Homo sapiens: one gene and its partner. The protein of the gene in region 1 interacts with the protein of each later gene in a pairwise test. Each region holds a gene or a part of one and is shown on either strand. Other genes may lie near its edges. The genes, in order: CCDC13 and ASB15.

Region 1 (11,522 bases):
TGATCCTAAAGTGAGCTAAAAGGACACACCACCAAGATAGGTAACCACACACACAATGGCACCAGAGTGCTTTCCTTGGGCTGCACAATCGCTGAGCAGAGTATTAAGCACGAGGTTTGCTTTTTCAGCTGCAGACAGCCCTGACCAGGCTGTCAGCCAAGGGGGCCACCGACGCAGGAGCCAAGCCACCGAGGGCCCAGATGGGAGACAGAGCATTGGTATGAATTCTCTTCTGTGCTGGGAAGTCTGTGAGGCAGCCATGGGCCTGGGCCTCCCCTCCTCCACAGGTGTGTAGGTACCTCTACCCGAGGTCCACCCCCAACCCCCAACCCCGCTGCCGAGCCAGGTGCCCATTGTCTACCATTGCTGCATCCTCAGAGCAGACATCAGAGAACAGTACCGAGTGTATGGCCTGAGGCCAAGAATGTCGTGTCGGAAGCTATGGAGGGTGTAGCTCCAACTCTGTCTCCAGAAAGGAAGGCTGGGAGGAGCCTGAGAACCCTGGAACACTAGAGCCTGAGGATCAAGAGGGAAGGCCTGGTCCAACTGACCTCCCACTGTCAGCCCAGCCATCTCCTGTACAGCATCCTCACTGGGGACACATCCAGACTCCACCTTACTCCAGGGACAGGGAGCTCACTACTGCCCAGTGGAATCCTGTTCTTTATGGGGCAGTTCATATTATGAACACTTTCCCTTTCGTGGGGCTCCAAATCTACAGAGTAAAAGTGGCTATTGGAAATGGGGACTTATTCCCCAGAGCCCATTTTACTAAACCAGTGACAGTTCATGAAACTCAAGAGGTGGGAATTGCAGCTCCATGAAAGGAAGTCAGTCTGACCTAGTGGGTTGGTTTATCCCCAAATCAGATAGTAAATATCATCAGAGTCTAACATTCCAGGAGGCTTCACCAAGGGTTTTCTTGGGAAGCCAGGCCAGTTGGTGAGAGAGGCAGCCAAGCCCCGGGACTCCCAATTTGGTGCTTGTTTTCTAGCCCCATCTTCCCTGCTGCCTGCACCTCAGGATCAGACTGCCCTGTGCCTTCCTTGAGGATAATTCAGTCCTCGCTGTGCAGTGATGGGCCCCTCAGGTTCCGGCGGGGATGGGCCCTCAGGTTCCGAGGTGAATGTGCCTCCTCAAGAGTAGTCTTGTGTAAACCTGTCTCATTGCTGGGGAAGTAGAAGAGGGGCTCTGCCCTCTACAGGGGCTGAGTATTCTTCAGGGCCTTTCCTGGCTTCAGGGGACACTGCTAAGCTGCCCCTGGTTTATTCCACGCATTGAGCACCTCCACATTCCGAACTAGGGCTGCCCTGGATAGGAAACTGCTTGTTCAGCCTGATGGGATTTTCTAAGCCCTGTGGCACAGAGAATCAAAAATAGAGCCTTGACCGGGTGAGGTGGCTCATGCCCGTAATCCCAGCACTTTGGGAGGCTGAGGCTGATGGATCACTTGAGGCCAGGAGTTCGAGACCAGCCTGGCCAACATGGTGAAACACCATCTCTAGTAAAAATACAACAATTAGCCAGGCATGGTGGCGAACGCCTGTAATCCCAGCTACTCAGGAGGCTGAGGCATGAGAATCGCTTGAACCTGGGAGGCAGAGGTTGCAGTGAGCTGAGATAGCGCCACTGCACTCCAGCCTGGGTGACAGAGTGAGACTGTGTCTCAAAACAAACAAACAAACAACTACAACAACCACCAAAAAAACAGAGGCTCTGTCTATGGAGAATCCCAGAGGAGGAATGAGAAGTCATTCGAAGGCAGGATGTGGACAGGGCCTTCAGAGATGGCCCCGGTGCTCTAAGCTCACAGGGGAGTCCACCCTCCATTAAGGTTGCAGCTGGAAGGTGGGACGGAGGAGGGCGTCCCTGAGCTGGCCTTACTGGAGAAGGAAGATGGGGAAGGTGAACTGAGTGTCAGCTGGATAACATTTGACTGCAGCCCAGAGCTCACACGGGAGAAAAGGGGAACGAAAGCCAAAAAAGCTGGGGTGAAGTCACCCATAGAGGGAGCCCTTGAATGGCAGCTGGAGCAGGAGTTTTGACTTTATTCTGTGGCCACAGGGAGCCTGGGAGGTTCCAGGTTCTGAGAGAAGAGTGTGTGATGGGCCGCAGGTCTCAATTCATCAGCACCACGTGTTCTCCCTGGCATCTCCTGATCAGAGCGAGAGCAAAAGCAATGTTTCCCCTCATAGGCTGCTCAGGGCGGCCCAAGCCCGAGCCACACTCCAGAGGCCTGCAGGCTCAATCCACATTCCAACCCTAGGCCTCCAAAGCACATTCCAGAGTGGAGCTGAACACCCTTCCCTCTGCTTGGGGCTTCAGGAGGCCGTGATGTGAGTAGCGTTGGCATCATCTGCTCCCCATGTACTGCGCTTTAGTTATTTTCTCAAAGAAAACAGCCTCGGGTAGGGGAGGGAGCGTACCCATACCCAGGTCCCCCACAAAGCCTGTGGAATTTCACTCTGGGAAGAAAGAACTCTGAAATGGCTTAGAGGTAGGATTAGCTCAACTGCCTAAGCTAGGAGGACGGGGCCTGATCCAGCCCTCTCCAGAACACCATCTAGCCCTCAGCCCACTTGTCAGCTGCCCACTCAAGCCAGGCTAGGCCTGCCAGCATTGCCCTCCATCAGGACCTGCCCCAGACAGCACCCTTGACATGCGTTGTCCTAGCAACCCTCTCAGGTTCCCTGGAGATTGGCATTACATATCCCCATTTTACAGATGAGAAAATGAGGCTTGGACAGGGCATCACTGCCCAGGTTCTAGAGCCAGATCCAATCTGTATGCTTTTTCCATGCTCTGAGCAGATCAAAGAGATGCTGCAGGGTCACTGCAGCCATATGGAAGCACATGTACTCCCACAGCTCTCAGCACCCCCACTGTCAGGGCCACTGGGGCTCATGGCGCTAGAGATCTGACAGGCAGGGCGGGGCGTGGCAGGGGGTGGAGGGGTGTTGCTTCCCAACCCAGGGCAGATTCAAAGCCACACATTCAACAGGAGAAGAGGCAGGCACCCAACAGAGTATGCAGGGATGGCAGGCGGCCAGACAGGAGGAAGAACACAGAAGAAAATATACTTTAAAAAAAAGGATGGCCGGGCACGGTGGCTCACATCTGTAATCCCAGCACTTTGGGAGGCCAAGGCAGGTGGATCACCTGAGGTCTGGAGTTCAAGACCAGCCTGGCTAACATGGTGAAACCCCATCTCTACTAAAAAATATACAAAAATTAGCCAGGCATGGTGGTGGGCACCTGTAATCCCAGCTACTCGGGAGGCTGAGGCAGGAGAATCGCTTCAACCCGGGGGGGCGGAGGTTGCAGTGAGCTGAGATTATGTTTCATATAAGTTCCGAGTTGGCACATTCTGTTCACGTTGGCTGTTCTCTTTAGCCTGATGGTGGTGCTCTGAGGAAGCGGAGCAGGAAAGTATTTGTATACTCATTCCATAGATGAGGACACTGGATGAGGCCAGAGTTTCTGGACCAGGTGTTCATGTCTAGTTTCTTTGGCCAGTGGTTTTCAGCTGGGCTGCCCAGAGCCTCTGGGGTCCATGGAACTTCCCGGACCCAGTATACTTGGATCTGTCTTTCACACTAGCATTCAGAGGAGATTTTGTTTGTGCCTGCTAGAGAAAGGTCAGAAAGCCACTGTAGTACCAGCCCTGCTTCCTGAAGTTCAGCTGCTTTGCCCTGTTGGGGCAGCAGCAGAGGGCCTCAGCGTCATTGCCTGATGGGATGCTCAGCCTGACAACCAACGTTCCTGTGGCCACAATGCCCAGCATTAACAGCAGCTTAAATTGGAAGAGTCAGCCAGGGCAGGGGAAGGACAAGTATTCTTTCTCATCCCACCTGTGTCACCCCAACCAGCTGTATGCCTGAAGGCAAATTACCTCCCCTCTCTGGGCCTTATTTTCATCATTATGGAAGGGGTTTAAATGGGCTGACCTTGAAGGTCCCTTTGTCAAATATCTATGAGTCACAGGAGTGTCTATTGAAGACAGAGAAGTAGTCAGCCCATTTAAGAAAAATTTCCATCCAGATAGTTTAAATAAAACATTGGGTTAAAAAAAAAAAAGACATTGCTAAGAGTTTCAGCAGGCAGTTTTCATGGTTGCTGTAGTTCTTCAAGCCACAGAGATGAGCATTTGGAAATTAAAATGGGTCCTTATTTCTATTCAGTGGTCACTGCTAGGAAAGAGAGCCCAAGGCCCCTCAGCTGTCAAAAGACCAAGGCCCAAGCTGACGATTCTGGGAGAGGCAGATCCTGAATTAGGATGCCATGGCTCTCCTGCCACGCTGGGCTTGCCTTCGGGGAATAACGTGGTTTCCTCTTTATTCTGAGTGAAGATGGATTAGCTGTGATGCCAGTCTCTGAGCACAGCAGTGGGTCCACACCCAGGAAGTGTCTGGGAGGCGTGGAGCCTGCCGCTTCCTCCAGATGCTTCACCTCTAGGGTAAGGCATACACCCACATGTGTGTGTGCAACACTCTGCAAAAAGCTCAGTCCCAAAGTTAAGCTGCCAGGATTCAAATCCAGGTTCCACCTTTATTAACCAGGTAGCTCAAGTAGAGGACTTACCTTCCACCACCCTCCATTTTGCATCTATAAGGGGCTTACAAGAGAACCTACCTCACAGGGGTTTATGAGGATTAAATGAGTTCTTCCATGTCAAACACTTAGCACAGTGCCTGGCACAGACTTGGATAAATGGGGGCTATGATTACTATTCCCATGTAGGCAATAAATGACTACTTTCTCTCCTGTCCTTCCCAACCAGCTGGAGACCCCAGAGGTGAAGGCCCTGCAGGACAGGCTGGTGGCCACCAACTTGAAGATGAGTGACCTCCGAAACCAGATCCAGTCTGTGAAGCAGGAGCTGCGGATGGCACAGAAGGTCTTTCAGAGCCAGGGCTTGGGGCTTCTTGTGTGGCTGGGGCTGGACTTGGGAAGAGCACGGCTGGCACAGTGGATTCCTTTCTGGAGCCATGAGTGCTCAGTCCCTTGAGCACACTGCTTGCTCTGGGTCAGGCTCCAGTTCCAGTCCTTCCTCCCACCAGCCCTTGGTCCATAACCATTTGGTGGGCAGAGTCGCTGGCTACCTGAGCCTGCCACCCCCACCCCCGCAGCATACCTGCCCTTGTGGTGCCTGCCCAGCTCTAGACTGAGGAGGACAGCACTGTCCACCCAGGGAGAGTCCATTAAGCCTTCCCTGCACTACTTGTGCCCCAGTAGATCCTGGGTCTCCCCTTAATGTCACCCTTACTTAACTTGAAAGCCTGCCAACACCTGCCTTCTTCTCTGCTATCTGTAACAGAAAATGAATAGGTTACTTGTGTATTAAAGGACCCTTTCAAAGGAAAATGCTCAGACTTGGGACACAGGCCCAGCTGGTTCGTTATTTATTTTTATTTACATAGCGAATTCTCTGGCATTTGTCTTCCCTGCTGGAACCACTCAGACTGGCCAAGATTTCCAAAACAGTGTTCTATTGTGGAAACAAGTGCCAGAGACTTGGTACGCTGGATCGGGTTTCTGTGACAGGCTTCAGAGGGGCCCAGGTCACAAGCTGGAGCGTATTGTTTCTGCCTCAAAGCCTTGAGGTTGGGCCTGAGTGCTGCACTTCAACAACCGCAAAGCTGGGTCCTTCTTGGACCACAGCACCCCAACTGACATTCAGTAGCCCACCTTTTGCTGCACTCAGAGGTCCACTTGTCCGTGGGTTTTCACAAAGGCTAGGGTCCTGTGGTGATGTACTTCCTATAGCCAGAATTAGCTCAGCACTAGGTGACAGGTGAGTGGGTTAAGGAAGCAGGAGTTGGTCAGCTTTGTGGTTCAGTCATCCCAGAATATGTCAAGAGCAAGGGGCCCTATCTGGGCATTGCTGGCAGTTTCTTGGCTGCTCTAAGCATTGCCAAGAAATGCCAGGGATGATGGGTTTACTACTTTCCCAGGGAGAGCTGCCCTTGGGACATGGAAAACTGACCTTTGAGGGCTATGCTCTGAGATGGGAAGAAGATCGTGTAGGTGAAGACTGCTTCTGAATATGCTTCTAAATACGTAGCAGCATCAGGGTCTGGTGGAGCCCTCTCTTTTGGCCACATTGAAGGCCCTGCCTTATTTCAGGTTTTGGCCAGAGAGGTTGGGGAAGACATCAACGTTCAGCAGCTCCTATCTTCGCCAGGGACCTGGAGGGGTCGGGCTCAACAAATTCTTGTTTTGCAGAGCAAGGTGAGTGAGTCATCAGACTTCTCCTGGCCTGAACAAAGGATTTAAAACACCCCAGAAAGAGCTGCCCTGACCCCCTTAGAGACCTAAGCACACAGTACCCAAAAAAGGCCTTTAGGTCTCACAGTGCACTCGTGCGGGGTTGTTGTTTTACCTTCTCGCCAACCAGCCTGATTTTAATTTGTTATTTAATGAACAAGCTCTTATATAACACTTAGCACATGCCAGGCACTGGAGCTTAACAAATGCCAACGCCTTTGGTTTGATTTATTTTACTCCAGGCATCTTTTTTTTTTCTTAGTTTATGTAGATTTGCGTGACTGTTGTAATTGTAAGCTTTTTCCAGTTTTGTCCAGATGCTTGTAGTCTTTTGAAAGTTTAATTACCCAATAAAAATTTAGCCTTGTCTCCCTCTTTATTGTCTGAATATTTTGGAGCATACCAAAAGCAGCTAACAGCAGGGGCTCTGGAGCCACACTGCTCAGATTCAAATCCCAGCTCTCCACTCACCAGCTGTGTGACCTTAAGCAAGTTCCTTTAGCTCTGTGCCTCAGTTTCCTCATCTGTATAATGGGGATAATAACGATGCCTACCCCACAGGATTGTTGGGAGAATTGAGTCAATACTTGTAAAATGCTCAGCACAGGGCCTGGCATGGAGGAAGCACTGTATAAAAGTTAGGTGTGGTTCTTTTCCCTTTGTCCCTTCAAACTGAGAAACATGTGAGAAGGTGTATGACTTCCACCATTTGCCAAGCATATCACCCTTGTTCCCAGGGACTTCGAGGGTCACAGTGGCTTTTATCTTCAGTGTCTCCCATGGGATCCTTGAAGCCAATATAAAGGGGGAAAAACTCCAAGAAGCTAATAGATGATAGTGCATGGCCTTGGGGTTCAAGAGACCTGAGTTTACGTTTGGCCACCGGTCTGCCAACTCTGACCTTGGGCAAACCCCTTCATCTTCCTATGTCTTCATCTTCACACCTGTGAAATGGGGTAACATAAAATAACATTTGTAAAGCACCTAGGACAGTGCCTGACCATAATAAGCACAAAACAACTTACTTCTTATTGTCATTAAGTTACATGTCAAATTCTTTTTTTTTTTTTTTTTTTTTTTTTGAGACGGAGTCTCGCTCTATCACCCAGGCTGGAGTGCAGTGGTGCGATCTCGGCTCACTGCAAGCTCCGCCTCCCGGGTTCACGCCATTCTCCTGCCTCAGCCTCCTGAGTAGCTGAGACTACATTTGCCCGCCACCACGCCCGGCTAATTTTTTGTATTTTTAGTAGAGACGAGGTTTCACTGTGTTAGCCAGGATGGTCTCGATCTCCTGACCTCGTGATCCGCCCACCTCGGCTTGCCAAAGTGCTGGGATTACAGGCATGAGCCACCACGCCCGGCCCTGTATGTCAAATTCTTAAAGGTAACAGTATTCTTTAATGATTAAATGGAATTGCCTCACAGCGCCACACGAGGGCACTGGTGGGTGCCTTCAAAGCTGTGCTCCTGCCCTTTGCCAGGGAGCCTAGCGAATTGTGCTTCCTTTCCTGGCTCAAGTTTACCAACATTGTTTTGTCATTTGGTTGTGTTGATAGGGAAACCAGGGTCAGAAGGACCCTAGGAGTTGTCTGCTTCTACCCTAGCGTTATAAGGGTGATAAGGGCATTGTTCTGTGGGATGACATCTACCTGCCACTTGCTGAAGGCCCACATGTGCCAGGCTGTGTTGACAGCTTCACCTAGACCATCTTGGGATTTTGCAAAGTTACCTAATCCTAAAAATAACCTGTAGCATTTAAAATGCAGATTCCATGTCCCTTCCGCTAGAACTGTAGTTTGTTGATCTGGAGTAAGCACCAAGATTTCAGTCCAAGAAGAACCTCAGAGGATTCCCAGGCTCAGACAACTTCACAATACTGAATCCTCATAACAGTGTTACGCAGGGCAGTGTTACTCTTAGGCCCATCTTACAGATGAGGGAACTGAGATTCAGAGAGTTACCTGTGCGCAGTCACACAATCTGTGAGGCTTTGAGGCAGTCTGTTTCCAAACCCTGCCTTCCCCTCTTCAGTATCTCCTGTAAGTGACTGCCATCTTCCGAGAAGCCCACCCAGTCTTAGGTGGTCTGTCTGTTAGAAAGTTCCTCCTTGCCCAGCACTTTGGGAGGCTGAGGTGGGCAGATCTCTCGAGCCCAGGAGTTCAAGTTCAAGACCAGCCTGGGCAACATGGTGAAACCCCGTCTCTACCAAATTTTATATATATATATATTTATATTTATATATTTATGTGTGTGTGTGTATATGTGTATATATATATGTGTGTGTGTATATATATATATAAAATTATCCAGGCACAGTTGCCTGTGCCTGTGGTCCCAGCTGCTTAGGAGGCTGAGCTGGGAGGATTGCTTGAGCCCGGGAGGCAGAGGTTACAGTGAGCCATGATTGCACCACTGCACTCCAGTCGGGGCAACAGAGCAAGACCCTGTCTCTAAAATAAATAAATAAATAAATAAATAAATAAATAAATAAATAAATAAATATTCTTTCTTGAACTGAGACCTGCCATCCTATCCATCCCTGGTTCCTGGGGCCATAGGTCTGCTTTCCAGCCTCAAACAGCCCCTCAGAGATAGGGTGATTTTTCTCATTCACCATTTTTCTAAGCTGAACTTTCCTGGTGTCTTCCAATGTGTTGCTCAAGATGCCAGCTCAGATTGTCCCCCACCCCTAGTCCTCCTCAGATGGGGCTACCACAGCCATCTAGAGAGGTGGTTCCATCTTCAGTCTGTGGGGTCTCCTATCACACTTCTGAGTAGAAGAGGCTGGCAGAAGACCCATTGTGGAACGACGAGTTTTACCATCCTCAGGTTCAAGAGCTTGAGAAGCAATTGGGCCAGGCCCGGAGCCAGTCTGCGGGAACAGCCAGTGATGAGTTGTCTGTCTATCCAGACCCAAGGAAGCTGTCGGCACAGGAGAAAAACCTGCTGAGGATCCGCAGCCTGGAAAGGGAAAAACAGGAAGGCTTGGAGGTAACGCGTGCCTGAGGAGGTCAGCTGGGCATGTGGGAACGAGAGATCATGATGGTGCCTGCAAGGGCTCTGAGGCACATGTGGTCAGAAGTCTGAGCCACCCCTTCTAGGCAGGAGACACCTGGGGACCTGGGTCACCTCTGCATGTTCCTCATGTCCTGTCAAACCAACTTGAGCTGCCTGACTGGGACCTCACTGTGAGCCCATTTAATGAACTTTTCGTGGCCCCATCCTGGCTGTTTTGGAGGTGCTATACCTGAAATTCTCATTGTAAAAGGGAGAGGGGGAGGGTCATGGCCCCAGAAGTATGATAGGGTTAGATGGGGCTTAAAGGGGGAAAGTTCCAGGCTGATGAAAGAGGTAGGCAGGCTGGACTCAACACCAGGGGCCGCATCTCACTGGCTGCGTTGGGAGTGTCAGAACTCTAACTCTACCAGGTTTAAGCAACAAAGGGAAGTCATTGGCCCATGTAAACGAACAATCCAGAGGTGGCCTAGCTTCAGGTGCAGATCGGGGCCTTGCTCTCAGCACCTTCTCCTGGGTTGGCTTCACTCTCTTCCACAAGGACCCTGGGTAGTCCCAGCTTCTCTCCTCCAATGCAGCCTCTACAGACAAAGGGTTTCTCTTTCCCAATAGTTCCAACAAAGTCCCAGAATTGAGTGTCTTTGGTCTAGCCTGGGTTATGTGACCATCCTTGAGCCCATCACTGTAGCCAAGAGTACAGGGTGTTTTGATTGGTCAAGCTTCAGACACCTGCCCCAAGGTTTGAGGGGATGAGTTAGCCTCCCCAAACTTGCAATGAGAGTAGGGAGTAGGGGCCACTTTAAAGAAGGTAACAGAAGCAGCATGAAGAGGTGCAGGCAGGCCATACAACAGGCCCACGTAGTGGCCCTGGCAGTGAGCTACCTAACAGTGAGGACTTGCCTTTTCATCTGGAGACTTTTGCCTGTGAGCACCAACGCTGGGTTAGGCCCTGTGTTAGGAATGCTGTAACCATGACCACATTGCACCTCCCAGCGCTGTAGACCATCAGCTGTGAGGAGGGAAACAGTGAGACCACAGAAGTGGACAGGGCCTGCTGGGCTTTGTATGCCAGCCAGGACTTTTGGCCTGTATCTTGAAGGCTGTGGAGAACCACCAAACGGTTTTTGTTTTTTTTTAGATAGAGTCTCGCTCTGTTGCCCAGGCTGGAGTGCAATGGTGTGATCTTGGCTTACTGCAACCTCCGCCTCCGGGGTTCAAGTGATTCTCCTGCCTCAGCCTCCCAAGTAGCTGGGATTACAGGCACCTGCCACCATGCCCGGCTAATTTTTATATATTTAGTAGAGACAGGGTTTCACTGTGTTGGTCAGGCTGGTCTCAAATTCCTAACGTCAGGTGATCCACCTGCCTCGGCCTCACAAAGTGCTGGGATTACAGGTGTGAGCCATTCGCCGAGCCCACGACAGGGTTTTAATTTGTGGAGGGAGGTGGTCAGCTGTGCATTTTGGAAAGGTCACATGGTTGGAGCAAGAGGAGGAATGGGTTGGAAGAGGAATGGAAGGCAGAATAGTAATCCTGGAGACATGACCAAAGATCTTTGCCAAGATAGTGGACTGTCATGGAAGGGCCAGACACCTGGGACAGTGAGGACAGACTTTCTAGGGCTCAAGGACTGATTGGACTTGGAAGAGAGATGAGGAGGAAGAGTTATAAAGGACTTCTAGGGAGTATAGTGGGTGGGTAAGGGAGACAGGGTGGGTTCAAGAAGAGAAAGGGAGTTGAGATTTGGAAATGCTGGGTTTGAAATGCACCTAGCTTGAACTTACATGTTAGTGCAGAACAGATTATGTTGAACAGTTGGGCTGACCATAAGCTGCAATAGCGGGTGGAAGGAAACAGCTTCCTGCATGCATTCCCTCTGGCAGGCACCCATAAGAGCCTGGAGTGTGTAGGCAGGAGAGCAACAGGTGAGTAATGGCTGCCTCCCTGCAAAGGGCTTGTGTCCTATAGATTCATGTTTTACTTGTTTTGCATTTCTATAATTCACTTCATCAAGGATATGAAAATACTTTTCCAGCAACAATTCACCCTCAGGATCAAGCAGGTGATGTCACCCACTGCCCAAGCTCCTCCCCAATGTCTCCATCTTGTCTTTATGGGTTTGCCTAATCTAACCTCTGCCCCTTCACTCACTGTGCTCCAGCCACACACCTTCTACCCCAGGGCCTTTGCTCTTCCCTTCATCTCCTTCAGTCTCTGCTCAGATGCCACCTTTTCAGAAA
Region 2 (11,522 bases), on another chromosome or scaffold:
CTCATATCTTCTTCTACGTTTCCCAGTACAGGCCCAGACTTTGAGTCTCTCTTTAAATAGAAGGCAGCATAGGCTTCTTCTCTAGGCCATAAACTCTACGAGTGAGATCCAAATCTGTCTCTTCTTCCTGTTGTCCACAGTGCATAACACAGAGCCTTTAGTGGAGCTAGCCGTATTAACTGAATAGGAAATGAGTGAGTGAATGAATGAATGAGTGAATGTAACTGTGTACATCTCCATTTGTAGGGGCAGCACTCATCCTAATCTGTATTTTAATAAGATTTTACTTAAAAGGAAAAAAAAGTTACATTTTTAGAAGTGTATACATCTAAATGGGGACAATCTCTTAATAATCCAAAAGGGGAAAACCTTGTAACAGTATAATTTCAGCCATTAGAGATGAGCAGAGAGGGAGAGGGACAACTGATTTGGTGAACCTCCTTAATTGTACTACATTAACGGTCACTTACTTCACTCACTGGGAACAGTTGGCCTATGTAGATTCTAAACAATCTAATTGATAATCACCCATTAAAAATGTAAGAAAGAGGGCCGGGCGTGGTAGCTCACACCTGTAATCCAAGCACTTTAGGAGGCCAAGGCGGGCAGATCACGAGGTCAGGAGTTTGAGACCAGCCTGACCAACACGGTGAAACCCTGTCTCTACTAAAAATACAAAAATTAGCCAGACTTGGTGGTATGCGCCTGTAATTCCAGCTACTCAGGAGGCTGAGGCAGGAGAATTGCTTGAACCCAGGAGGTGGAGGTTGCAGTGAGCTGAGATTGTGCCATCGCACTCCAGCCTGAGCGACAGAGCGAGACTCTGTCTCAAAAAAAAAAAAAGAAAAGAAAAGAAGAAAGAAAGAATGGAAGGAAGGAAGGAAGGAAGAAAGAAAGAAAAGAAAGAAAGAAAGAAAGAAAGAAAGAAAGAAAGAAAGAAAGAAAGAAAGAAAGAAAGAAAGAGAAAGGAAAGAAAATACATATATAAGAAAGAGAAGTTCATTCAATACTTGCTGCTATCTTTTGCGGCAAGGGGAAAAAACCCTGTTTCTATAGGGGAAACCTGATGAACATGATTTACATATGAGGTTCCTGGGTCCTAGGAGTGATATAATAATAATAGCCAGTTACTGAGCTCCTGTTATGTACTAGGTACTACACTGAGAATTTTACATACATTATTTAATTTGTACAACCCAACAACAAGTGTTATTTCCATTTTGTTGGTGAAGAAATTAAAATTTGGAAAGAGGGCACACAGCATCCTATCCTAGTGATACGTGTTATTTTCTGTGAAACTCTTACCCCTCCTCCAGGTCTTAAAGAAAAGGTAGTGTCATCTTGTAAACTTATATTTCACAAATATAAACTTGGGTATGAGAAACAGAAGGGATATGAGAAATACATTATTTTCCTTGTAGAAAAAAAGTTACTAGCTAGTATCTATTTCAATATTAAATTTAGTAATTAGTTTAATACCACCTAAGGTATTTGTGTTAATATACTTACTGTTGTTTTTAACAATCATTTTCAAGCTGTGAAAAAGGGCTCCTATGACATGGTGTCGACTCTGATCAAACATAACACTAGCCTAGACCAGCCCTGTGTCAAGCGATGGTCAGCAATGCATGAAGCAGCCAAGCAAGGCCGAAAAGATATCGTAGCTCTGCTGCTGAAACATGGAGGCAATGTCCACCTGAGAGATGGATTTGGAGTCACACCACTAGGCGTCGCTGCCGAGTATGGTCACTGTGACGTGTTAGAACATCTAATCCACAAAGGTATGTGAAAAGGAGTTACACTTCCTGACTTTTGTCCTGCCTCTCGAACTCTCCTTTTCTCCATTCATCACTCTTCCTCACCTGAATGTAACTAGGGGAGCTCCTCTTCCTCTGCTGAATGGAACTTGGCATCAGGTTTTCCCACCTGGTCCCTCAGTAGACCCTTATTCTACAACTCAGCTAAGCCCTATACATTGTGACCTACGAATTTACAAGCCCAGTCCTGATTGCTCTCTCGAGAGACAGTTCAATCTGCACATAGATGGCCCATCAGGGCCTCATGCTCATCTTCTCCTTAACTGAATTCCTCCTGTTTTTCTACTCTTCTAATGTAATAATTTCTCTCAACAGGATTGAAAGATCGTATTTATCTCTAATTCCTCCATCACCTGCTTTCCTAAATCCAATCAGTTGCAAATTCTTGTAGCGTTTCTCTTGTCCTCTCATTGCAATCCATCTGCCATCCTGATCAGGTCCCTCAATTCTCCCTGGACCAGTGCAAATAGTTTCTAACCATTTTCTGGGTTTCTAGTCTCCCATCAGAGAATCACAGTACATACTGCAACTTGGCTCCTCTCCCTATAGGGCAGCTACAATAGTGTCAACTATCCAAAAAACAATCCCTATTGCATCATCTCAAATTGTTTTACCACGTTTATCCCTCACTGCTCCCATCTTGTATCCTACACTCCAGTCAAAATATACTAGCAGTATTCCCAAACGTACCTTGCAGGGTTTGGGTCAGGTCCTTGCCTTTATCTCTTCAGCACAATTCAAAGTCAATCTCTTGAGACACCTCCTCCCTAAATCCTTTCCTAATTCTTTCCAACAGATTGTGACACTGCCCTTTCTTAAACCCTCCAGGTGTTTTATACAACTACAGAACCATGAGTTAAGGAGACCTGACTCCTAAACTGGTTGAGCCACTACTCACTGTGAGACCCTAGCCTTATTCCTTAAATATCTGGTCCTCAGCGTCCTCATCTGCAAATGACCTCTAGAACCGCATGATCCCCAGTGATTCCCTGTAGGAAAAAGACTAACATTTTTGAGGTGTCCCAATACAACCACGTTTAATTTTCAAATAAGCCCTGTGAAGTAAGCTGTATTAATCATTCACAGATGTGGAGATGGAGGTGCACGGAAGTAAACGGCTTGCCCCCAGCTCTCACCATAAGCAGCAGAGCCACAGTCCCCTACATCATGTCTCCTTGTCTTAATGTCAGTGTCACTGGAATATCATACAGTTTGTGCTGTCTGATATTTTGTTTCATTTCCCCTCTAAGCTCCTTAGAGTAGTCACACTTATTCTTCTTAGGGTCACACACACTGATTGCACATAGAGGGCAATAAAGTATTTGTTAATACTTTATTAACTGTAAGTATTTGTTAAGTTAAAATAGAGGGGGCCGGGCACCATGGCTCATGCCTGTAATCCCAGCATTTTGGAAGGCCAAGGTGGGTAGATTACTTAAGGCCTAGAGTTCAAGACCAGCCTGGCCAACATGGCGAAACCCTGTGGTGGCACATGCCTGCAATCCCAGCTACTCAGGAGACTGAGGCAGAAGAACTGCTTAAACCCAGGAGGCGGAGGCTGCAGTGAGCTGAGATCACACCACCGCACTCCAGCCTGGTCGACAGAGTGAGATTCTGTCAACATAAATAAATAAATAAATAAATAAAATAAGAAACTACTGTCTTTAAATTAAAAAGTCTAATGAGCCTTTTTCAGAAGAATTTGCCTGTCATGAAAATTGACTTAGTTTCTCTCATGATTTTTGGCCCAAAGATTTTAATAAAACAAACCATGCTGCATGCATGACTGTTTATTGAAAGTATAGAAAACATGGAGGCCCTTAATTCTATACTTTTTAAGTACTAACCAGAAAGGAACACAACAGGTTTTGTGGGGGTTTTTTGTTTGTTTGTTTCTTTGTTTTTGAGATGGAGTCTCACTCTGTTGCCCATTCTGGAGTGCAGTGGAGTGATCTCGGCTCATCACAACCTCCACCTCCCAGGTTCAAATGATTCTCCTGCTTCAGACTCCTGGGTAGCTGGGACTACAGGTGCACGCCACCGTGCCCAGCTAATTTTTGTATTTTTAGTTGAGACAGGGTTTCACCATGTTAGCCAGGCTGATCTCGAACTCCTGACCTCATGATCCGCCCGCCTCAGCCTCCAGTGCTGGGATTACAGGTGTGAGCCACCATGCCCAGCCCCACAACAGGCTGTTTTTAAGGGGATTGTTTAAACAATACCATCCAGTTATCATTATGCCACGTTTTATACTGCCAGGTGGTGATGTGCTTGCTTTGGCGGATGATGGGGCGTCGGTGCTGTTTGAGGCAGCAGGAGGTGGCAATCCCGACTGCATTTCCCTCCTGCTGGAATATGGAGGAAGCGGAAATGTACCTAACCGAGCAGGACATCTTCCTATACACCGAGCTGCCTATGAGGGGCATTATCTGTGAGTGATAAATTATAGGGTAATTATTTGAGTTAAAAATGCTAATTTGTATATACAGTATAATCACAAGTCTATATGTAATACCTTTCAAAATCCAAGGAGAAATAGGCATAATCTTCAGGTTTTGATGCTCCAAATTTAGATATTTAGAACTTATTTAATTTTCCTCCTTTTGATATTCTTGTACTTCCAAAAAATGAATTTATAGTACTTTTATAATGAAAAGAAATTTTCTTTTAGAAGGAATTAAGGCATAAGTGAGAATTCTGCACAAGCCACTCAAGAGTGCCTTTCTGTTTACAAATGTATTTAACAAAAGGCTACAGTTTCTAAAAATTTTGCCCTTGACAAAGGATTAAAATTTGTAGCAATACTATCAGTGTTATTCCAGTTATTTCCTAACATCTCCAGGATATTATAGTATAATGTCAAATGTATTGTTGAATAGAAAAGTTTCATTATAAGTTTATAATTTTTTATTCCATACGAACGGTTGAATAGATTCTTAAATCACAAAATGTACATAATTAACACATTGGTAGAAGTCTAGATCCCTATATTAAACTACCCACCATGAGAAGATGGTTTTAGGCAATTAAATATATTTCATAAGCTCAAAAACTTTGAAGTAATCGGGCTTTATAGTTTTCAGTGGGCCATTGGCTAAGTGGCCAGTGACGCATAATTGATGCTAAGTGACATGTTGTTAGAGTTTACCTGGATTTACTCCCAGTGTTCATAAATTCACAACAGTAGACACAAGAGATCAGGTTCTCCTTGCCTGTGACTCTCATACATGTCTGGCTGGTTAGTCAAGTGTGAAACTCACAACTATATCACATGTACTTAGAAACATAAACTGTGGCTGGTTATCTCAATTGGACTGATGCAAGGTTGATGGAATACTAAAGACTCTTCTTTTGGCTAATAATTCAATTGCAAGTTATATGGAAGCAGACAGAGTGTTCATGGTCAATATTAAAAAATAGATTGTGTAGGAATCAGTGAAAGAGGAATAATTCATGAGAATTGGAAAAGGCCCAAATTCTTGTCCTGCTCTGCGTCTAACTGTGTGACCTTGGACAATCTTTTTGCCTCTCTAGACTTCAGATTGTTCTTCTGTTAAATGAAGCAGTTGGACTGAATGACATCCAGGGTCACTTCCTATCACCCCATGATCCTAATGGTCAAGATTATGAAGCATTCCTCTGTGGCATTAGAAAGGCTTACTTTTCTTCTACATTTTTAAAAATAGTATTGGTTGCCTGTAAATATTATATTGTTCAGAGGAGAATTGGAAGATGGGGCGTGTTCTTGAGGAACTACAATTCTAGGAAAAAACATATAAGATGCAGTTTCCCAGGAATATTTAGAACAAAAAGCTAAATCAAAACTGAGCTACATTACACTAAACTAAATAGTTGTACCTCGGCAGACAAAGGTTAAATGTTTCAGTATAAAGTTATCTAGAGAAAATAAGGGAAACTATACAACTTGCATTCACTTATCTAGTGAGAACGGTAGTTTATTTAATTTCTTGATTTTCTTTATGGCAAGTAGATATTTGACTTTTTTCTTTTAGTGCACTGAAATATCTTATCCCAGTAACATCTAAAAATGCAATTCGGAAAAGTGGGCTAACACCAATTCACTCAGCAGCAGATGGACAAAATGCACAGTGTCTAGAACTGCTCATTGAAAATGGTTTTGATGTCAACACTCTACTTGCTGACCACATTTCCCAGAGCTATGACGATGAGAGGAAGACTGCGCTGTATTTTGGCGTTTCTAATAATGACGTTCATTGCACAGAAGTCCTTCTGGCTGCAGGTGCAGACCCAAACTTAGATCCCCTCAACTGTCTACTTGTTGCAGTGAGGGCCAATAATTATGAAATTGTCAGGCTGCTTCTCTCCCATGGAGCTAATGTCAATTGTTATTTTATGCATGTGAATGACACTCGTTTCCCCAGTGTCATTCAATATGCTCTAAACGACGAGGTAATGCTGAGGCTATTGCTGAATAATGGCTATCAAGTGGAGATGTGCTTTGACTGCATGCATGGTGACATCTTTGGAAATTCATTTGTGTGGTCAGAGATACAGGAAGAGGTGCTGCCAGGATGGACATCTTGTGTAATAAAAGATAACCCGGTGAGTTATGCCTTTTCTGCTTTATATTGAGTTATCATCCTAATTTAATACATGTTCATTCAATTAGGGATGTTACAAGAAAAGAAAAATAAACTCTAATTTTTCTATTTTTCTTGTTTTTTCAATTTTTGTATGCAATGATACAGGGATATAAGCATAAATCTAGCCCCCCAACCTCTCCCCCAAAAATATGTTGTTTGTTTTTTCTTGACTTGAAAACTGAATGTAGAAGAATGTGAAAATGTATGTAATTAGTCACTTCTGCCTGTTTGGTAGAATATTGGGGCCAGATGGGAAGAAGCATGACTTCTCCATGCTTTGCTGACTACAATCACATCAGAGCCAGGCGAGTCTTCAGGGCTGATGGTTTCACAGAGAGAAGCAAACAATTTATTTTTAATTTTTGTTCATTACAAGGAGAGATCTTTTATTTTCTGTAGTAAAACAGAGTAATTTTTCCATAACACAATTGAGTGTTTATGTATATGATATTAAAAATACTACTAAATTAAATTTTATCAATTCTCTCAGTTCTGTGAGTTTATTACAGTTCCTTGGATGAAGCACTTGGTAGGCAGAGTTACTCGTGTACTAATAGATTACATGGATTATGTTCCTCTGTGTGCTAAACTGAAGTCTGCACTAGAAGTACAGAGAGAATGGCCAGAAATCCGCCAAATACTAGGTAAAAACCAAAAGTTTTGCCTACAATTTTTAAATTAAGAACTTATATGGGGGAAATTTCTTAATGTCTTCTTTGATACTTTTCCTATGCTACTCTACTGTATTTCCAGAATTATCTGGGTTTTAAAATCATCCTTAACACTTCCTCTGTTGTAAGATACATATTTTCATTTTTCTTTATATTTTCCAGCTTTGTAATTGTATAATGAGTAATACTACAGCTATATTAACGTTCTGATTACAATTCATTTTAAAAATTAACTTCTATAATATCATACAATACGTAGACTGCAAGCTCCATGTGGGTAGAGATCTACTTTGTTTCTTGTTATATTTGCAAGGCTTAGCATAGTGCCTAGTAAGTAGTACATTTCAATAAATATGGAGTAAATGAATGAACAGCAGGGATTAGAATTACTCTTTTTGACATGCTTTCTCTGGGGTCTTTATTGACAAAGTCCTACCATCAAAGGTTAGTATTTGTAGACAGGCCATTTTGTCTTTTCTAGGTGAAAGTTTACCATGAAAATGAATAATACAAGTTTCAATGAAAGTACATTTTTAAATAATGCAAATACAAATAAAAACCAGAAAAATATCATAGATTTGAGATGCTTTCACTTTCAAAATATAAGTTTGGAAAAATAAACTTTCAAAACCTAGTTGGACATCAATTTCATGAAGCCTAAAGAAGCATTATAGAATTTTATATGACATTTAAATAATTTGACATTTTTAATGTACCTGAATCAGCCTTCCCCTGGAATTAGTTCTATAATAGAAGAGACTTTGCAGCAACTAAAACAGGAGTCTTGGAGAATCTGATGAGTAATATAGTATTGTTAGCCCAGAAATTGAGCTCTGGGGTCAGATAGACCTAGAATGAAATGAAATTCTGGCCTTGCCTAGGAGTAGGATTGCTAGATTATAAAATGCATATGTAATTCAGGACTGATGTTTTCATGATAAAAAGCAACAATTTATTGTTACCATTTTTGCTTCTCTAAGTGGAGGAGGATTTTTTTATTTCCTATAAAAAGACCAAGATAGCCATCCTAGTTGTGTGACTTTGAGCAAGTTACTTATTCTTCTTATGCCTAGGTTTTCCCATTGCAAAGTAGATGTAAGATAGTATTAACCTCATAAAGTTGTTGTGGGAATCTAAAGAAATAATGCATATAAGGTGGTAGTGTCTAGAATACTTAAATTACTTAATAAATTTATTTAGTTTTAAAACTAAAGTATTAACATTTTTATGTTTTTACTACATGGTAAGTTTATGTGAGGTATCTGAAATGTATATGTACAGTGTGCTATGAAATATTGTAAAGTATTATCATGCTTATTTTTTACAAATAAAAAGCTAAGCCTAAGGGAAATTACAAAACAGTCTAGACCCTATGCATTCTTGAAAACCACTTCTCTAAGTTCCCTTCCTGGACTTAAGCCCGCATTGAGAGTAAAATCAAAAATCGAGCAGGACAGAAACAAGAAAGGACCCACAAAAAAGTTGGGGTGGCAAACAGAGCCAGGAAACCTCAGAGATCTAACCACCATATTTTGAGTCATTGCAAGAAAATAATAGAGTAAGAAGCTCTGCAAAGTTAGAAGAGCTATCTGGAACCAAGCATCCTTCTAAAAAGTCAAGAAAACTAAATGCAAATAAAAATGAGCAACAGAGAGGGCGCGGTGGCTCACACCTGTAATCTCAGCACTTTGGGAGGCCGAGGCGAACGGATCACGAGGTCAGGAGATCGAGACCACCCTGGCTAACAAGGTGAAACCCCGTCTCTACTAAAAATACAAAAAATTAGCCGGGCGTGCTGGCGGGCGCCTGTAATCCCAGCTACTCAGGAGGCTGAGGCAGGAGAATGGCGTGAACCCGGGAGGCGGAGCTTGCAGTGAGCCGAGATCGCCCCACTGCACTCCAGCCTGGGCGACAGAGCGAGACTCCATCTCAAAAATAATAATAATAATAATAATAGAAAGAAGAACAGAATAATATCCCCACGGGCAATGAATACATAACTTAAAAAATGCAAACCTTCTATTTCAAAAATGAGCTAAAAAGCATGAGGAAAATAATATCAGATATGAAAGAACAATACGAGTCAAAATTTGAAAAATTCAGAAATCAGGTAACAACTGAGGAAAGATTTAGGAATAAAAATTAGAAAAAATTAATGTCAAATGTGAAGACTGAACTAGAATGAAAACAAGAACTAGCAACACAGTTGACAATACATTGAGAGATATAAAAGAGGATATGGAAGAAAAATTGTAAATCAAATATAAACGAAGAAATAGATAAAAGGATTTTAAAATATGTATATTTGTTTATTTCAATAGGTTTTGGGGGAACGGGTCGTGTTGGTTATATGGATAAGTTGTTTGGCGGTGATTTCTGAGATTTTGGTGCACCCATCACCTAAGCAGTGTACACTGTACCCAATGTGTACTCTTTTATCCCTGACCCACCCTTCCCCCTGAGTCCTCAAAGTCCATTGTATCATTCTTATGCCTTTGCATCCCTGTAGCTTAGATAAAAGGATTTGAAAGACAGCTAAAAACATTGATGACAGACAATGAATAGTCAATATATGGATAATAGGATTCCTTGAAAAGGAAAACCAAATCAAGGGAACATAAGAAATACAAAAAACTAAGTTTCAAGAAAAACTTGTAATAAAAAAGAAAGATTTGAAACTATAATATATAAAATACTATATCCTTTGGGCACATAGGCAAAAAGAACAAGTGACTTATAAGAGAAAAAAATAGATTATTATTAAACTTTTCATCAACAATACTTTATGCCAAAAGACAATGGAGTAACATATTTAAGACTCTCCTTGGAAGGAAAATGTGAGGCAAGGATGCTTACACAGCAAAATTGACTTCCAATGATCAATGTAGGCAAACTGTTGTCAGCATGCAAGAACTCAGGAAATATTGTTCCTCTTGCTGACGTCCAAAGGATCCACTAAGAAATGGCCTTTAGACAACCCAAAATGATTAGCGAGATATCACCATGAGGACTAGTATTAAACAAGGCTAACACTAAACAGAATGCCAAGACTAAGTGAGAGTTAAAAGGGAGAAGATGCAATACATAATGGTTATATGCTCTGATAAAATAGATACAGCACAATTATTTATTTTTGAATATTAGTACATAGATAAAATAAATAATATTTAATAATTAGAATACATATTTTTAAATATCTTAAAATATTGATAGTGATATAATATTAATATTGTTATGCTGAGGATGAGAGATATATTCAGTAAATGAGTAATTAAGGAATATTCCAATTCCATTACTCTTTGTATCCTTGAAACCAAGGATTGTCAGTGTGGCAGAAAGAAAATACAGATGTAATAGAGAAGAGATTAAAGAGAAATCCTGTAGTCCTGAATTTGAATTAGAAATAACAATATAAACTCATAAGCTATTTTATCTTGAAAGCATCTGTGTGCATGTGGATTATGCTGAGTGTGTGTGTGTGTGTGTGCACGCGCGCGCACGTGCGTCTGTTTACAGATAAGTCTTAGAAATAATGATGAACCCAGTAGCAATGAGCATTCCTACGACCCAGATTTTGGCCTGGAAATGCCATTTCCTAACAAAAGAAACCAGGGTTTTTGCTGGAGGTTGTTTTGTTTTGTTTTTGAGAAATGGATGATTGTATCTGGGGAAGGAAATGAATAAGATGAACCTGGAACATCTGGTCATACCAGAAAGCAAAGAAACTCTGAAAGACTACATGATTCATGACAAAAGAATTCAGGGGCTAACTTGAAGAGGCTCCAACTGGCCAAAGATGGGACAATTTAAGTTTCAAAAAGGGTAATGATTTCAATGAATTGAAGCCAATCTATTTAAATATACGATTGGTGGGTTTTTTTCTGTTTTTTTTCCTTCAACTTGTATTTTAAGTTTAAGTGTACATGTGCAGAATGTGCAGGTTTGTTACACAGGTAAACATTTATCATGGTGGTTTGCTGCACAGATCATCCCATCACCTAGGTATTAAGTCCAGCATCCATTAGCTATTCTTCCTGATGCTCAGACTCCCCCAGCCACCCCCCCGACAGGCCCCACCCAGTATGTGCTGTTCCCCTCCATGTGTCTGTGTGTTCTCATCATTCAGCTCCCACTTATAAGTGAGAACATGCAGTGTTTGGTTTTCTGTTCCTGCATTAGTTTGCTGAGGATAATGGTTTCCAAATCCATCCATGTCCCTGCAAAGGACATGATCTCATTCCTTTTTATAGCTGCACAGTATTCCATGGTGTATATGTATCAAACTTTCTTTATCCAGTCTATCCTTGATGGGCATTTAGGTTGATTCCATGTCTTTGCTATTGCAAATAGGGCTGCAATGAATATACGTGTGCATGTATCTTTACAATAGGATGTTTTATTAAATATAC

Evidence for each region.
Region 2: the proteins of CCDC13 (region 1) and ASB15 interact in binary tests that used the Homo sapiens proteins (3 or more experiments, as listed by UniProt).

Annotation. Positions count from the first base shown.
Region 1 is NC_000003.12:42,740,632-42,752,153, reverse strand, and holds part of CCDC13 (coiled-coil domain-containing protein 13), read left to right. Parts: intron 1-128; coding exon 129-218; exon of another isoform or gene 219-287; intron 288-1,638; exon of another isoform or gene 1,639-2,336; intron 2,337-4,780; coding exon 4,781-4,897; intron 4,898-6,126; coding exon 6,127-6,231; intron 6,232-6,995; exon of another isoform or gene 6,996-7,211; intron 7,212-9,087; exon of another isoform or gene 9,088-9,096; coding exon 9,097-9,258; intron 9,259-11,066; exon of another isoform or gene 11,067-11,179; intron 11,180-11,522. UniProt on the Homo sapiens protein: Required for primary cilia formation and promotes the localization of the ciliopathy protein BBS4 to both centriolar satellites and cilia.
Region 2 is NC_000007.14:123,623,034-123,634,555, forward strand, and holds part of ASB15 (ankyrin repeat and SOCS box protein 15), read left to right. Parts: exon of another isoform or gene 1-127; intron 128-1,535; coding exon 1,536-1,781; intron 1,782-1,862; exon of another isoform or gene 1,863-1,924; intron 1,925-4,076; coding exon 4,077-4,248; intron 4,249-5,830; coding exon 5,831-6,401; intron 6,402-6,932; coding exon 6,933-7,086; intron 7,087-11,522.